Homo sapiens: one gene and its partners. The protein of the gene in region 4 purifies or fractionates together with the protein of the main gene of each other region. This does not show direct contact. Each region holds a gene or a part of one and is shown on either strand. Other genes may lie near its edges.

The links.
Region 1: the proteins of TRIM69 (region 4) and NUP133 purify together in Homo sapiens (affinity purification with mass spectrometry, with the first as the bait; one large-scale study listed by BioGRID). This does not show direct contact.
Region 2: the proteins of TRIM69 (region 4) and RRM1 purify together in Homo sapiens (affinity purification with mass spectrometry; 2 studies listed by BioGRID and IntAct, with this or other methods). This does not show direct contact.
Region 3: the proteins of TRIM69 (region 4) and POU2F2 purify together in Homo sapiens (affinity purification with mass spectrometry, with the first as the bait; one large-scale study listed by BioGRID). This does not show direct contact.
Region 5: the proteins of TRIM69 (region 4) and NUP205 purify together in Homo sapiens (affinity purification with mass spectrometry, with the first as the bait; one large-scale study listed by BioGRID). This does not show direct contact.

What each region holds. Positions count from the first base shown.
Region 1 is NC_000001.11:229,466,841-229,470,360, forward strand, and holds part of NUP133 (nuclear pore complex protein Nup133), read right to left. Parts: intron 1-3,520. UniProt on the Homo sapiens protein: Involved in poly(A)+ RNA transport. Involved in nephrogenesis.
Region 2 is NC_000011.10:4,129,283-4,132,802, reverse strand, and holds part of RRM1 (ribonucleoside-diphosphate reductase large subunit), read right to left. Parts: intron 518-3,520; coding exon 382-517; intron 1-381. UniProt on the Homo sapiens protein: Provides the precursors necessary for DNA synthesis. Catalyzes the biosynthesis of deoxyribonucleotides from the corresponding ribonucleotides.
Region 3 is NC_000019.10:42,118,944-42,122,463, forward strand, and holds part of POU2F2 (POU domain, class 2, transcription factor 2), read right to left. Parts: intron 3,436-3,520; coding exon 3,401-3,435; intron 3,240-3,400; coding exon 3,183-3,239; intron 1-3,182. UniProt on the Homo sapiens protein: Transcription factor that specifically binds to the octamer motif (5'-ATTTGCAT-3'). Regulates IL6 expression in B cells with POU2AF1. Regulates transcription in a number of tissues in addition to activating immunoglobulin gene expression.
Region 4 is NC_000015.10:44,743,010-44,746,529, reverse strand, and holds part of TRIM69 (E3 ubiquitin-protein ligase TRIM69), read right to left. Parts: intron 1-3,520.
Region 5 is NC_000007.14:135,578,417-135,581,936, reverse strand, and holds part of NUP205 (nuclear pore complex protein Nup205), read right to left. Parts: intron 3,187-3,520; coding exon 3,022-3,186; exon of another isoform or gene 3,011-3,021; intron 1-3,010. UniProt on the Homo sapiens protein: Plays a role in the nuclear pore complex (NPC) assembly and/or maintenance. May anchor NUP62 and other nucleoporins, but not NUP153 and TPR, to the NPC.

The DNA of each region.
Region 1 (3,520 bases), on a different chromosome or scaffold from region 4:
CCATATCCTCAGACCTATAGATGGAGGAAAATTTATTGGCAGTTGATGGTAAAAATAAATTCAAAAATCAAGAAAAGTCACATCTCCTAACTTTTAAAAGTCAGAGTGCCCAAATAAGTCTTATAAACAGGCAAATTCTGGATTGTTACTGAGATTTTTAAGCGATGATATTTTTTATTATAGCTACTCTGCTCAGTGCATCTTTAAATAGCACTAGGTTACAGATGACATCACTTTACAATGTAATACCCCAAACTAATGAACTAATAGACTAAAATAATGACCTCAAAAAGTGAACTTGCTAATTTCTTTCTTTGAGGAATTCCCCTTCTTCAGACATAACAGAAACATTTGTAGAACAGAAGTAAGCAACATAAGAGAATGAACTAAATACATAACTTCTAACTCTTCCTTTGTCATTAATTAATACATGGAGATAACAGTGCAAAAATACCATCAGGCACTGAAACTCCTGTTTCAAGTTCAAGTCTGCACTTAAGCTTTCCCCCCATTATTTAGAGTTTGCATAGCAATGGACACTCAGAGATAAGAGGAAAGAAAAATCAGATTAGCTGCCCTCAAGGACCTCACAAACTGGCTGAAGGAACAAGTTATATAGGCACAGATAAAACATGACCCAAACAAAATCCCTCCCTTTTGCAAACCTTGTTCTTCCTTTTGCATTTCTGATGTTAGCCAAAGGCATCCTAACAGCCCAGGCAAGAAATCTTTAGCACATTTAATTTATAAGCTTAAGTGTAAGAATATTTTACATTGTTAACATGAAAAACACAATGAAAGCCTATATAATGGCCGGGTGCGGTGGCTCATGCCTGCAATCCCAGCACTTTGGAGGTGGGTGGATCACAAGGTCAAGAGATCAAGACCATCCTGGAAAACATGGTGAAACCCTGTCTCCACTAAAAATACAAAAATTAGCTGGGCGTCGTGGCGTGCACCTGGAGTCCCGGCTACTTGGGAGGCTGAGGCAGGAGAATTGCTTGAACCAAGGAGGCCGAGGCTGCGGTGAGCAGAGATTGTGTCACTGCACTCCAGCCTGGCGACAGAGCAAGACTCAGTCTCAAAAAAAAAAAAAAAGGAAAGCATATATAATATAAAAGACAGAAAATAACATAAAAGCACATAAAATGCCAAAACACTTGTTAAATTCTCTTATCATGTATATATTCAGTGATTTCAAATATTGCTCATATGCCGTGTCAACATAGTCTGTTCCTTAAGCAGTGAGCTCTGCTTTTCCAGAGCCCTGGGAGGTACAAGGCCTTCCCAAACTGGAGACAGAGTCAAAGTGGAGAGCGCACCCTCAGGCAGCTCTGTATTGTTTTACTTTCTATCAGGGCTGCCAAGTCAAAATATCGTTCTATATGGCCCACCAATCAGAGATTGATTTTGGTTAACCAGCTCGTCCCAAAACACAAATACTCCTTAGACAGGTAACTTGTCACCCCCAAGTGGAAGGACAGGTAAAAAGAAAGAAAAACTACTATATGCATATAGCTATTGTATTCTCTTTTCATGATCATTATGACACGGGAGAAAACCTTTATAACTACACCCCAGAGAAGCTAAAGACCAACGAACATCATGAGAAATGAAGATAAATAGTGACAGGAACAGTCCTAAACATTACCATTTTTCATATGGAACATTCTTTTGAGGAGCCAATCACATTTTTAGTTTTGCTGTATCATATTCCTAAAATATTATTCTATATGTATCCAACTGATAATTTCCAGACCCTTCTCCAATAATTCAGCTAACTGAAACATGTACATACACTAAATTGACACTTATACTTTGCCCTTTGATCCAAATGCAGAATAATGAACCAGGCTCTTGCTCAGTTCTTACAAGTAGTCTGTAATTAATTTTAAAAAATTGTCTTATCATATAAAATTATATATGAATAAAGACCAAAAAGGACACAAAAATGACAACAACTTGATTTGTTAGATCATGAAACTTGAGGTGATTTGTTTTTCTTTCAGATTTCTGGCATACTGTCTAGATTAAAAACAAAACATAACAAAGTGCTTTTCCTTCCATTCCCCAGGAACTAACCCAAATGCATAAAAGCAAAGAATTCACACTAAACACATTTATGGAATCAACAGGAAGACTGAATTTAGGTTATAGTACATCAAACTTAGGTTACAGTACATCAAACATTAAGAAAAAGAGACTTGTCGGCACAGTGTGCTACATGTTAGAATACAGCTAGGCTATAGGAGGAAGGAAGCAAAATTTGAGACACCAAATAGAGTTTGAAGTTCCTCAAATGCATAAGGAATTCCAAATTTCACAGAGCTCAGGGAAGAGCTGGCCCTGTTTCTAAAACCAGATAGTTCTGCAGTCTCAGTTAAGACAACAGGTCTAAGTTCTAATGTCACACCTTTAAAGGGAGACAGCGAAGTCTGCCTTGCTGCCTCATCAGGCTGTGAAGCTTCACAAAAGCACGAGGACTGCGTCACTATTTCCACAATGTCCAGCTGCCACTGGCTGCCCAGCATCTTAACCATTTCTGTCTTTGAAGTTTGTAGCAGACTTTACTTTTTCTCTGAAAATAAATCTGATTCTACAAGCAAGGTGTAGCAACAGGATCCTAGGAGGTAGCTGAGGAGTTCAGTGAAGGTACTGTTTGCAAAGGTGTGGGCAAGATTAAGGGGTCCAAAAAGGGATGGGGCAGCACCCTAGGATGAGGCATTATCAACCTCAGGCCTGAAGAGGCACAAGGAGGGGGCAGCTACTGGAAACACAGAGAAAGCAGTTGGACAGGAGGCACAGTCCCTGACAGAGGGGCACAGCCAATGTAAAGTGCGCACAGGCAAGGAAGAAAGCTGGCAGAATAACTACTCCAACTTCTGGCCTTATGGCAGGGCCTCACATTCATCTGACCTGGCAGAAGCCGGAGGGCAAGGGAGCCCATTCAGGAAGGCCACCTTGCTGTGGCAGAGTCAAGAGTAGATCTGCCTGGCCAACAAGGGTGAAACCAGGTCTCTACTAAAAATACAAAAATTAGCTGGGCATGGTGGCACATGCCTGTAGTCCCAGCTACTTGGGAGGCTGAGGCAGGAGAATTGCTTGAAGCCAGGAGGCAGAGGTTGCAGTGAGCCGACATTGCACTGTTGCACTCCAGCCTGGCAACAGAGCAAGACTTAGTGCCCCCTGCCCCCAGAAAAAAGAGTAGATCGAGAGAGACAAAGGAGAAGATCAGGATGGATGCAGTAGCTCACGCCTGTAATCCCAGCACTTTGGGAGGCTGAGGCGAGTGGATCACCTGAGGTCAGGAGTTCGACATCAAACCCCATCTCTACTAAAAATATGAAAATTAGCCGGGGTGGTGGCTAGCACCTGTAATCCCAGCTACTCGGGAGGCTGAGGTAGGAGAATCACTGGAACCCGGGCAACAGAGTGAGACTCCATCTCAAAAAAAAAAAAAAAGAAGATCAGCATGCAAAGCAAATAGGTACTTGGAGACAGTTATTGGGGGAAAAAAGTA
Region 2 (3,520 bases), on a different chromosome or scaffold from region 4:
TTCTAATTGGTAACCAAGTCTGAGAACCACTGCCTTAAATGATACTTCTTTATACATTTTGAGTATCCTAACTTAAGCATCTGGGAGAAGTTATAGAATATATCACTATGATTACATAATGGTTAAACATCATGTTTAACTATCAACAACTTACTTTCATACTCGACCCTCATTCACTCATTCTTTCAACAGATTATTTATTAAATGCCTATTGTGCTGAAATATTAATAACAAATAATAATATTAGAGATGAAGATGACTGTCTTTATCAAAGTTTGCACCCAAACTAAGAAAATGGGCAAATTAAACATGAGTGAGCATTTACTCCCAACATCAGGCTTTTGAAAGATCTCCCTGTAAGGCTGGTTGTGAACTGCTCACCTGAAATTCTCCTGACAAGACTCTGCGAGTATAGATGTTGCTGGTGTAAGGTTCAATGGACTCATTATTCCCCAGGATCTGAGCAGTGGAAGCTGTAGGCATCGGGGCAATAAGTAAACTGTTTCTTATACCATACCTAAAGAAAAGGAGATTATCAGGTACTAGTCCCAAAGCTACAATCTGCCAGGAAAGCAGCTACTTTAAGTCACTGTAGTAAATGTAGATAAATGTAGTAAATGTAAATGTAACATCGTACATGCATTGAACTCACACGTTGACTTTCAAATTAAACTCCTACAGGGAGGCAATTCCACAGTATGGGTGCTATTATAGCCCACTCTCCTCTTAAATGCCTGACTCCTAAACTGAATTAGTACAATTTTTATTGTTGGCTATCCTTATCATACCATGATTTATGCCACTTGGACTGTGGCACTCAGGAATCATAACACTTGATACACTATCTTGCGTAGGGAAATATTCAAATCACTGTTGAAGCGCTCCCCACCTGTATTAGGTTACACTCATCCAACCCTCACTCTTTTCCAAGTGCCTATAAAATCATTGTGCTAGGCCCCTTCTGGAAAAATAATGATGAGAAAGTGTTCAGAATCAGAGAAATATCACCACAATTCTCCATTATCCTGTAAAGAGGAAGAAATTATGCTCAAAGTATATTCTTCAATTATAAGTTCCTGCAAGAAGGTTAACATCTTTTGACTAATAAGAGAAAATACACTATCTGACACACTGAGAAATCTCCCAACTGCCCCTGGCTCACCTTCAAAGCTCAGCCTAATTGATAGCAATTTTAAAACATCTTTCCTCATCAGGCAGGCACAAATACAAATGTCAAATACAAATATCTACTCTGCAAACATTTTCTCTGACCTGTACCTTTCCGTATACCTTAACTACTTGTTTTCTTAGTCTCAAGTTTTTAAAACACAAAGAGCCTGTCTTTCCTACATTCTATACCTATGGATTCATACAGTGCTTAGCATACAGCCTCATATCCTGACGGAGTCTGTACAACTGGATATAGTTTGGCTGTGTCCCCACCCAAATCTCATCTTGAACTGTAGTTCCCATAATCCCCACGTTACGGGAGGGACCTGGCGGGAGGTAATTTAATCACAGAGGAGGTTACCCTCATGCTGTTCTCATGAGATAGTGAGTTCTCACAAGATCTGGTTTTATAAGGGGCTTTTCTCCCTTTACTCAGCACTTTGCTTGCCGCCGTATTAAAGAAGGACCTGTTTGCCTCCCCTTCTGCTATGATTGTAAGTTTCCTGAGGCCTCCCCAACCCTGCGGAACTGTGAGTCAATTAAACCTCTTTCCTTTTTAAATTACCCAGTCTCAGGCAGTTCTTTATAACTGTGTGAGAATCGACTAATACAACTGGGTTCTCTACTTTTTAGTTATTATTATTTTTTTATTTACTTTTTTTGGGGGGTGGTTCTCCACCTTACTCTGTCACTTTGTAGTGAGGTATCAAGCAAACCACCAACTATCTTCATGTCTTTACTTCCTCATCTGTAAAATAGCAACATCATCTGTCTACAGACAGGTAAATGTTGTGAAAAGTCCTACATATATGATATATTCAAACTATGGAATTGTCTATAATAATTAAAAACATTAGGTAGACCTACAGGTACTAAAAGAGAAAGAGCTCCAAAATAAATCACTAAATAACAAGTCTCAGAATACATCAAGTCTTTTTTTTGAGACAGAGTCACAGTTACCTAGGCTGGAGTACAGTGGCATGATCTCGGCTCCCTGTAATCTCCACCTCCTAGGTTCAAGTGATTCTCATGTCTCAGCCTCCCAAGTAGCTGGGATTACAGGCATGCACCACCACGCCCAGCTAATTTTTGTATTTTTAGTAGAGACTAAGTTTCGCCATGTTGCCCAAGCTGGTCTTGAACTCCTGACCTCAAGTGATCCACCCACCTCAGCCTCTCAAAGTGCTGGGATTACAGACGTGAGTCATGGTGCCCAGCCCAGAATACATCAAGTTTGATCACATTTATATGACAAAACCGTGTATGTGTACCTATCTGCAAATGTACTGAAAAAGATCTAGAAAAATACACACCATTAACAAGTCTTATCTCTGGGAAAAAGAATAAGTTACTTTTTTGGTTTGTTTTCTGAGACAAATGGTTGGCAGAAGTATGAAGAAGGGCTTTTACTTTCTATTTTATTTCTGTATTTGAGCTTTATTAATAATAAATTTGTGTTCATATACTAATTTTGAAATTAGAAAAAAAGTCATGTATATAAAAAACTAAGCCATAGTATTTTGAGGGGAAAAAAAAAAAAAAAAAATATATATATATATATATATAAATACAGTACAGGTCCATTTTCTTAAAAGTTGAATTTCCATGTAAATACACATGTATGTGTACTCTTGGAAGAAAACCTAAAGGATGACAGACACTAAGATGCACACAGGTTTTCTGGGGGAGGCAGTATTAGTATAATTTTCATTTTCTCTTTCCAAATCTATGTTTTCCTAAATTTTCTAACATGTATTATTTGAGTAGGAAAACAATTTTAATTTAACAATTTTAAGGCAAACGGTTATTTTTTTTAAAGAGCATTTTAAAGCTACTGCTTCATTCTCCAAATATTAATCACTTTGCATATGCATTAACCCATAAATGACAAAGTCATCACGATAGAAAACAAAAACAATTTGCTTTGTTATTCACTCTGCAAAACATTCTGTCTGCCTTCGAATCCCTTATGCTTATTAGTTTGAAAGGCCTACAAAAACTCAATTTAAAAATTTTTTTTTCATATAGTCTAAACACATTACCCTCCAAAAACTCTTCCAAAATCCATTATTCCTATGACAATCAATTCAAACAAAAGCCATTTATATGCCCGATGTAACTAAATTGGGAAATAAATAAGAATGAAAAACATTTAAAAAAAAAAATCATAGTTGGAAAAAAGCCTTAATGAGAAAGAAAATTACCTAATCTAGGTGTGTTAAGTCCCTAAAATAAGATCAACTAATAATAGTAATTCCTACCAGGTACTGAAATGCTTTCATTGTGCCAAGCAACTTCCAGGTTACTATATATATTATCTTACGAAGTTTTTTCCCAAAATAGTTTTGTG
Region 3 (3,520 bases), on a different chromosome or scaffold from region 4:
AGACAGTGAATGGCATGTCCCAAATTATGGAATATAAGTATTAGAAAGTTTAAGAGCTACAGAGGCCAAGTGTGGTGGTTCATGCCTGTAATCGCAGCATTTTGGGAGGCTGAGGCAGGAGGATTGCTTGAGGCCAGGAGTTTGAGACTAGCCTGGGCAACAGAGCAAGACACCGTCTCTTAAAAAAAAAAGAGAGAGAGAGAGGTTAAAAAAAAAAAAGTGCTGCAGAGATGCAGCATGAAATGACACTGAGTATGAGAAGTCAGGGTAGCAGCTATCCCTGGCAGGGGCATTAAGGGCCTCTGGAAGGCTGGTCGTGCTCTGCTTCTTGATCTGGTGCTAGTGACATGGGTGTGCTAAGTTTCTGAAAGTTCACAGAGTCATACATTGAAGATCTATGTGTGTTTTTAATGTGTATCATATTTTAATACAAAGTTTTTTTAAAAATAGGCTGAGCGCGGTGGCTCGCCCCTTAATCCCAGCACTTTGGGAGCCAAGGTGGGAGGATCACTTGAGGTCTGGAGTTCGAGACCAGCCTGGCCAACATGGTGAAACCCCATCTCTACTAAAAATACAAAAATTAGCCAGGCATGGTGGCACACACCTGTAATCCCAGCTAATTGGGAGGCTAAGGCAAGAGAATCACCTGAAGCCGGGAGGTGGAGGTGCAGTGAGCCAAGATGGTGCCATCGCACTCCAGCCTGGGCGACAGAGCGAGACTCCGCCTCAAAAATCGCTTGAACCCAGGAGGTGGAGGTTGCAATGAGCCGAGATCATGCCATTGCACTCCAGCCCGGGTGACAGTGCGAGACTCCGTCTCAAAAAAAAAAAGTTTTAAAAAAATAATGTTGAATGCCATGGTGAGCACACTATTCCCTTTTCAGTGCTTTTTTCATTGTTTCTGGTTATCTTAAAGTCTCTGATTGGTGCTTGAATGTCTTTACCATCTCTCCAATACTAGCTAATCTCCACTTTTATTTTAATTTTTTTTTTGAGACAGGGTCTTGCTCTGTCACCCAAGCTGGAGTGCAGTGGCACCATCAGGACTCACTGCAGCCTCAACTTCCCAGACTCAAGCGATCCTCCTGCCTCTGTCTCAAGTAGCTGAGACTACAGGCATGCACACCCAGCTAATTTTTGTATTTTCTGTAGAGACAGGGTCTCACTATGTTGCCCAGGCTGGTCTTGAACTCCCGGGCTCAAGCGATCTACCCACCTTGGCCTCCCAAAGTGTTAGAACTACAGGCTTGAGCCACTGCATCTGGCCTAATCTCCTTTTTTTTTTTTTTTTGAGCTGGAGTCTTTCTCTGTTGCCCAGGCTGGAGTGCAGTGGTGCAATCTCGGCTCACTGCAACCTCTACCTCCTGGGCACAAGCAATTCTCCACAATGCCTCAGCCTCCCAAGTAGCTGGGATTACAGGCACTCACCACCATGCCCGGCTAATTTTTGTATTTTTAGTAGAGTCGAAGTTTCACCGTGTTGGCCAGGCTGGTCTCAAGCTCCTGACCTCAGGTGATCTGCCCGCTTTGTCTCCCAAACTGTTGGGAATACAGGCATGAGCCACCGCGCCCAGCCCTAATCTCCTTTTTTAATAAGCCTCTTTTTAATAAGCCTCTTTTTTAACAGGCCTCTGAGGTTTAGACCCTTCGGCACACAAGAGACTCTGGGTAAATTTTAATAATCATCATATTTATTTCCATGGCAAGTGATTCTGGTTTTCCATTTGTGAAATTTCCATTTAAAAAACATTTATTTAAAAAGCTGTCGAAAAGCAAGCCAGTTCATGAGTTGGTAATTGTTGAAGCTGATTGATGGGTATCTAGGGGCTTTATTTTCATTATAACCTTCTCTCTATTTCTGTATCCACTTCACATTTTCCATAATAAGGTGCTTTTTTAAAAAATTGAGCCAATTAACAAAATTATTATGTAAATAGTTGCGCACAGTGGTCTTATGCCTGAGACTGTGACAGAAGCACATGAATCACTTCAGTTAGGGAAAGACTGACACAGAAGAGATGGAGAGAAGTTGAGAGGCAAAGCCCAGAGAAACAGGGCGTACAGGGCGAGTTGTGGACAGAGCCCGAGGCCAGGAAGGGGAGGGAGAAACCTTCATTCCCTTGGTCCCACTGGCATCCCCAAAAGAAGGAAGCCTGCTGCCAGTTTGAGAACAGACTGCAAAGATCTGATTCAACTGAGGACAGGGTGGGGGCAATGGATACACGCTGTGCTCTGAGGGCTAAGGCAATAGCCAAACCTGCCATCAGAGGGTCAAGGAGGTCAAGATCGAGAGCCTGTCTCCCCTAGACCCCGTTCAAAGCGCTCAGCACAGAAGCAGGACATCTGCTCACAAAGCACTTTTATCCTCTCCTCTCATGGTAGCATGGGGGTACACCAGACATGGAGGCAACCACAGAGGCCATCCCATCCGACTGCCCCCTCCCCCCTGACCAATGATACTGAAGAGGAAACTGAGAGGCCCAGAGAGGGGAAGTGACTTTCCCATGGTCACAGAGCAAAGCTGTAGCAGGGTGGGGAGCAGTTCCCAGCCTCCCACCCCATCCCTCAGCCACCACTGGTCAGGGTCTGGAGTCCTGCTCACACCTTCTCTGCCCCCACCTCCAGTGCTACCTTCAAGCCTCTGGACCTGCCTGCTACCCCTGGACCAGGCTGGAGGGTGGAGACTGGAGCCCAGGCAACCCCAAGAAGCCCAGAATGCCAGGCACAGGGCCCCATCTGGATGTGGAATTTGCACTGCCTGGCTGCTTCCGGCCTCCCTGTCATTCTCTCCTGCATTCCTACAGCTATCCTCAACTGGTACCAGCCCCCCCACCCCCACCTCAGCTGGCCGCTAAATGTGTATATTGGGGGACAGGCGGTGGTGCAGGCCTCTGTTGGGTCAGGGAAGTTGGGATGGGGGCGGGCCTTTGGCTTCCTGTTGTTCATCGCCCTGGGGCTCTGGGGGGGATTTCCCTAGCCACCCCCACCCCCTAGGGAAGGGGAAGGAGCCTGCGTGAGTCACAGGCCTGGGGTGGGAGCCCAAGAGTGAGAAGGGGCGGGAGGAACCTCGTTACCAAGGTACCAAGGCTCAGTGCTCTCTCAGCCCTTGGACTGAGGCAGGCCTCCTGAGGACCCTCTTCCAAGCGCTGCCCACTTCCCTGGCTGTTCTGACAGGTGCTTACCTTTGTACTGGGGCCAGTTGGGGACACGGAGAATGGGGAGGTCTTATTTTGGGGGTTCTGCAAAGAGAAAGTAGGAGCAAGGGGATGGGAATAGTGCAGTGAAGCAGCTTCTGACCACCCCCGCTCCCTGCCCTCCTACCATAGGCGGCACAGAGCCCCCTCTGAACCCCTCTCCCCATTCCTTCCCACCCCCTCCCGCTTATCCACTCCCTCCTAACCTGATGATTAGTGTCTGGTCCATTTCTTTCGGTGTCTGCAAAGAGAGGGAAAGGATGTGTTGTCATCAGCCACCCCCACCACACCTGTCCCCTCCCAGCTCTCTTCCCATCTGTCCCACT
Region 4 (3,520 bases):
TTGATTTCTTTTTTTATATACAATTATTGGTTTATGCTATTATCTTTTAAAACTTTAGAAAAAAAAGAAGAGTTACAAACCAAAAATAGGTAGTTCTTTGATGAGTGCTTTTTTTATGTCTTTGTCTGGGTTCAAGTTATTGTCTAATGTCCCTTCATTTCAGCTTGAAGAAGTCCCTTTGTCATTTTTTGTAGGTAAGATCTACTAGAGATAAGCTCAGTTTTTGTCTGTCTGAGAATGTCTTAAATTCTTCTTCATATTGGAAAGATAGTTTGGCCAGATACAAAATTCTTTGTGGATTATTCAATTACTTTGAAGATGTCATCCCATTGCTCTCTGGCTTCCATGATTTCTGATGAAAAATTAGCTGTTAACTTATTGAGGCTCTCTTGTACATAAGTCACTTCACTCTTGCTACTTTTAAGATTATTTTTGGCTTTTAATAGTTTAATTATAACTTGGTGTGGCTCTCTGTTAACTTACATAGAGTTTGTTGAGCTTCTTTGATGTATAGCTTTATGCCTTTTGTCAAATTTCAAAAGTTTTAAACCATTATTTCCTTAAGCATTCTTTCTGTCCCCTTCTCTCCTCTCTTCTGGGACTCCAACTATGCATAACAGTCCCACAGGTTTCTGAGGCTCTGCTCATTTTTATTCATTCTTTTTTTTCCCTGATCTTCAGCATAATCTCAATTGACCTATTTTCAGTTTCATGAATTCTTTCTTTTGCCTGCTCAAATCTGATTTGAACACTTCTTGCGAATTTCTCATTTCAGTTATTATGCTTTTCAACACCATAATTTCTCTTTGGTTCCTTTTTATAACTTCTACATCTTTGCTGGTATTCACTATTTGGTGAGACATCAGTCTCATGGTTTCCTTATTTGCAAATTGTTTCCTTTAGCTATTTGAGAATATTTAAAATAATTGATATAAAATCTTTGTCTAGTGAGTCCAATGTCTGAGCTTCCTCAGGAATAGTTTCTATTAATTTCCTTTTCTCCTGTCCATGGGCCATATGTTCTTATTTATTTATACTTGTTGAATATCCGATACTTTGACAAGTATAATGTGAAATCTCTGGAAATCAGAATCTTCCACCTTCTCTGGGGTTTTTTGTTACTTCTTGTTGTAGTTGTTTTGTTTAGTTAGTGACTTTTCTAAACAAATTTTGTAAAGTCTGTATTCTTCGTCACATGTAGCTACTGAATTCTGTCCCATGAACTTAGTAGTCATCTAATAGTTCAACAGAGATTTCCTTAAATGCCTAGAATCAACCCAAATCAAACAACAACAACAACAAAAACCTCCCAGTCTTTGTAAATGGGCTTCGTATATGTTGAGCATGCCTTCAACACACAGTTTACAACTTCCTTAGTCCTCAGTTCCTGCTTACACAGATCCTAAAAGTCACTCCGAGAAGAAAACTTGGGGTCTTTCTCAGGTTTTTTTTTTTTTTTTAGTATGCACTCAGTCCTGGGCATGCAGTTGGCCTTCTAGATTACCAGGAATATGTGGGTACTTTTCAAAGGGTATTCCCCAAAATAACTCTTTCCCCAGCCTTTCTTTCTCAGCTTTTTGGTTACTCTATTGTTTGCCCCAACTATTATGCCTTTCCCCAGGTGGCAGCAATAAAAACATTTGCTTTTAAATGTTTCCAAACTATACCTCCAGGGTAGCCATCTCATCTGTGAAAAAGTTCTGAGTTAAACAAACTAATGGCAAGCCTTTTATGTAATACTTCATGGAAGCACCAGACAGGTCAAAGCCACAGTTCTTTGGGAATAAGGTCCATGCTGCTCCCACTTGTACTATGTACCTGTAGTTGGAATGTCAGCTGTCTTTAAAACCACCACCAAGATGGGAAATGAGGAAAACCTGAGTAAGTTAAAGTGTTAAAAAGTTATTTTACAGAGATTCAAGGTTTTATTTAATTATTATTAAATATTTCCCTGGTTGCTGTAAGCTTTTGATTAGTTTCAAGTTTTAAAAAACTCGATCTTCAAAATTTTTGCCAGTTTTTGTGGAGGGATGGACTTTGGGACTTCTCTACTCCACCATTTTTTTTATTATTATTATACTTTAAGTTTTAGGGTACATGTGCACAATGTGCAGGTTAGTTACATATGTATACATGTGCCATGTTGGTGTGCTGCACCCATTAACTCATCATTTAGCATTAGGTATATCTCCTAATGCTATCCCTCCCCCCTCCCCCCACCCCACAACAGTCCCCAGAGTGTGATGTTCCCCTTCCTGTGTCCATGTGTTCTCAGTGTTCAATTCCCACCTATGAGTGAGAACATGCAGTGTTTGGTTTTTTGTCCTTGCAATAGTTTACTGAGAATGATGATTTCCAATTTCATCCATGTCCCTAAAAAGGACATGAACTCATCATTTTTTATGGCTGCATAGTATTCCATGGTGTATATGTGCCACATTTTCGTAATCCAGTCTATCATTGTTGGACATTTGGGTTGGTTCCAAGTCTTTGTTATTGTGAATAGTGCCACAATAAACATACATGTGCATGTGTCTTTATAGCAGCATGATTTATAGTCCTTTGGGTATATACCCTGTAATGGGATTGCTGGGTCAAATGGTATTTCTAGTTCTAGATCCCTGAGGAATCACCACACTGACTTCCACAATGGTTGAACTAGTTTACAGTCCCACCAACAGTGTAAAAGTGTTCCTATTTATCCACATCCTCTGTAGCACCTGTTGTTTCCTGACTTTTCAATGATGCCATTCTAACTGGTGTGAGATGGTATCTCATTGTGGTTTTGATTTGCATTTCTCTGATGGCCAGTGATGGTGAGAATTTTTTCATGTGATTTTGGCTGCATAAATGTCTTCTGAGAAGTGTCTGTTCATGTCCTTTGCCCACTTTTTGATGGGGTTGTTTTTTTCTTGTAAATTTGTTTGAGTTCATTGTAGATTCTGGATATTAGCCCTTTGTCAGATGAGTAGGTTGCGAAAATTTTCTCCCATTTTGTAGATTGCCTGTTCACTCTGATGGTAGTTTCTTTTGCTGTGCAGAAGCTCTTTAGTTTAATTAGATCGCATTTGTCAATTTTGGCTTTTGTTGCCCTTGCTTTTGGTGTTTTAGACATGAAGTCCTTGCCCATGCCTATGTCCTGAATGGTAATGCCTAGGTTTTCTTCTAGGGTTTTTATGGTTTTAGGTCTAATGTTTAAGTCTTTAATCAGTCTTGAATTAATTTTTGTATAAGGTGTAGGGAAGGGATCCAGTTCCAGCTTTCTACATATGGCTAGCCAGTTTTCCCAGCACCATTTATGAAATAGGGAATCCTTTCCCCATTGCTTGTTTTTCTCAGGTTTCCAAAGGTTAGATAGTTGTAGATATGCGGCATTATTTCTGAGGGCTCTGTTCTGTTCCATTGATCTCTATCTCTGTTTTGGTACCAGTACCATGCTGTTTTGGTTACTGTAGCCTTGTAGTATAGTTTGAAGTCAGGTAGCATGATGCCTCTAGCTTTGTTCTTTTGGCTTAGGATT
Region 5 (3,520 bases), on a different chromosome or scaffold from region 4:
TGCCTAAAAACAGTATGCTAAAATTCTGTAAAGCTTAGTGAAATTACAAAAATGCTTGGTTTTTTTGTTGATTTTTTTTTTTTGGAAACAGAGTTTCACTCTGTCACCCAGGCTAAAGTGCAGTGGCATGATCTCAGCTCACTGCAACCTCTGCCCACTAGGTTCAAGCAATTCTCCTGCCTCAGTCTCCCAAGCAGCTGGGATTACAGGCACGCGCCACCATGCTTGGCTAATTTTTTGTGTTTTTAGTGGAGATGGGCTTTTACCACGTTCGCCAGTCTGGTCTTGAACTCCTGACCTCAAGCGATCCACCTGCCTCATCCTCCCAAAGTGCTGGGATTACAGGCGTGAGTCACCACACCCGGCCGATGCTTGTTTTTTTAATTTTTTTTGAGATGTGATCTCACTCTGTCACCCAGGCTGGAGTGCAGTGGAGCAATTTCAGCTCACTACAGCCTCTCTCCTGGGCTCAAGTGATCCTCCTGCCTCAGCCTCCTGCGTAGCTGGGACTACAGCCAAGGGCATGTCACCACACTGGGCTAATTTTTAATTTTTTGAAGAGATGAGGTATCACTACATTGCCCAGGTTTGTCATGAACTCCTGGGCTCAAGCAATCCTCCCACCTTGGCCTCCCAAAATGCTGGGATTATAGGCATGAGGCACTGCACCTGGCTTCATGCCTTTTATAGAATAATATAATAAAAACATTTGATAAAAGTTTCAGAAGTCTATGAAGAGAACAGAAACCAATTTTTCAAATTGGAGATCTTCGTTAAAACTTGTCTGGATTATTTCAAGAAGTGACCATTTCTGCAAAATAACACAAGCTAGTCATTTTTTCTAACAATTTTTAAAATGCAAATTAACAGAAAAATTTTTATAGTTTAAAAATTCTAATTATAATACCCCTAACTATTAAAGCTTATAAAAGGATATGAGCATATAAAATCAAAGAGATTAAGTAGCCAAAGATCTGGGACTTGAAACTAGGGCTGTGATTCCTAACCTATTTTTACTATTATTCTACAGCAAACTATAGCATATTCTATTAAACCTTTCAAAACTAGTGCAGTGGTATGGGCAATTATAGCATAAGATTGTGACCATATTACATAATATTATAATAACTATCTATGTATAACTATATTATATAGTTAATATATTAACTATCACACCTGGGCATGGTGGCTCGCGCCTGTAATCCCAGCACTTTGGGAGGCCAAGGCAGGCAGATTGCCTGAGCTCCGGAGTTCGAGACCAGCCTAGGCAACCCGGTGAAACCCTGTCTCTACTAAAATACAAAAACTTAGCTGGGTGTGGCGGCGTGCGACTATAGTCCCAGGTACTCCGGAGGCTGAGGCAGAATTGCTTGAACCCAGGAGGCAGAGGTTGCAGTGACCTGAGATCATGCCACTGCATTCCAGTCTGGGCAACAGAACGAGACTCCATCTCCAAAATAAAAAAAGAAGATATTAACTATCACATAGCCACTTCAAAGGTTAAAGGGTAACTTTATGTCAGAAAAGTAGTGAAATAAGACTTATAAATGATGAGGGTACGTACAGGTGAGAAACAGAATTTGTACGGGAATGTAAAAGTCTAATTCGCTATCAGCATTTAGATATATAGATGACAGACAGATAGAAATTAACTGGCCAAAGAAAGACTCCTAACACAAAAAAAGCTTTCTGCAAACACCTTGGGAACAGCATGACACTAGTGAAAACAAAATGTTCTGGAATTACACGATTGATAAGATACTAGAATCTGTTGATACTTTAGGATTAGAAAACTGACATAAATTGTAAACTTGAATAAAGCCTTTCTAGATTTACCATAAAAAGACAATTCTTTGGGCTTCGTGTTCCATGTATGGTTCTCATTCTGTTAGAATAAACCCCTACTAATATGACAATTAAATAATGTAAATGTAAATAGCAGAATAATATATGCTACAGTGAGTTAACAGGTTGTTAAAAGTCAGTATTCTGGTCAGGCGCGGTGGCTCACACCTGTAAACCCAACACTCTGGGAGGCCAAAGCAAGTGGATCACCTGAGCTCAGGAGTTCGAGACCAGCCCAGCCAACATGGTGAAACCCTGTTTCTACTAAAAATACAAAAGATTAGCCGGGTGTGGTGGCGTGTGCCTGTAGTCCAATTACTTAAGAAGCTGAGGCAGGAGAATCACTTGAACCCAGTAGGTGGAGGTTGCAGTGAGCCGGGATCGAGCCACTGCACTCCAGCCTGGGCCACAAAAAAGAAAAGTCGGGATTCCACATCTGTTCTTGACTGATCCAAATATCTCCTTTTTAATACACTGTATGGAAAAATAACTGTTTTTAATTTGACACAATGTGAAAAACTAGTTTGTGAACAAATCAAGAAGTAAAATATATAAAAATAAAAGGAATAGTATATTTTAATTTTAAAAAACATTTAAGGCCGGACGGGGTGGCTCACGTGTTGCAATCCCAGCACTTTGGGAGGCCAAGGCAGTCGGATCACCTGAGGTCGGGAGTTCAAGACCAGCCTGACCAACATGGAGAAACCCCATTTCTACTAAAAATACACAATTAGCCAGGTGTGGTGGCGCATGCCTGTAATCCCAGCTACTTGGGAGGCTGAGGCAGGAGAATCGCTTGAACCCGGGGGGCAGAGGTTGCAGTGAGCCGAGACTGTGCCATTGCACTCCAGCCTGGGCAACAAGAGCAAAACTCCATCTCAAAAAAAAAAAAAATTAATGTGACACTGTCATTCCAAATTTTAAACTCATACCCTGAAGGTAAAAGAGCATTGTCAGTGGCTCCAAGAATGGGAAATAGTATTTCATATGATATTTTTGAGAGACAAGGAGAAAAAAGTCTGTATTTCACTACTACACTAAAGGTTTCATTTAATACAACTCTGGATATCTTCCTATGCTTATGCTTATGTATGTCAAAGATAATACTCCTTCCAAAAATGTCATTAAGTGCTAACATGCTGTTTCTCATAACAAAATTACCTACAATCAATTCACCTGTCACATCAGGTAGCTGGGATATTCCCCTCAATGCCAGCGCCCAGGCAAGTCTAACAGTGGCTTGGAGCCCAGGCAGTTTCCAAAGCTGTGAGTCCTGAAGACGAGAGTGAATTGTTGCAATGTACTGTTTTTCTGTCAACAGTGGAAGTTGATGAATCATATCTGAAAACACAAAAATAGACCACTTTACCGATCACCAGATAAATTCTCACTTCTGATACACAGGAATAATATCCAAAAGTCAGAAAATCTGAGCATTCTCACAGAAGAATAATGACCAATTAACATTAATTTCTACATCCCAAAAGGTACACTACTGTTGATTGTACACATACTAAAAACAAAAAAAGAAAATGACAATAATCCTAAATTTCAATTTCACTATTTTCAGTCATTTTTATAAGTGTACTACAAATAAACAAGAAAAAAGTTAGACACTCATTTTTTCTGCACATAAATTCTAAAATAGAAATCATGCTATCTAAAGATCACAAAA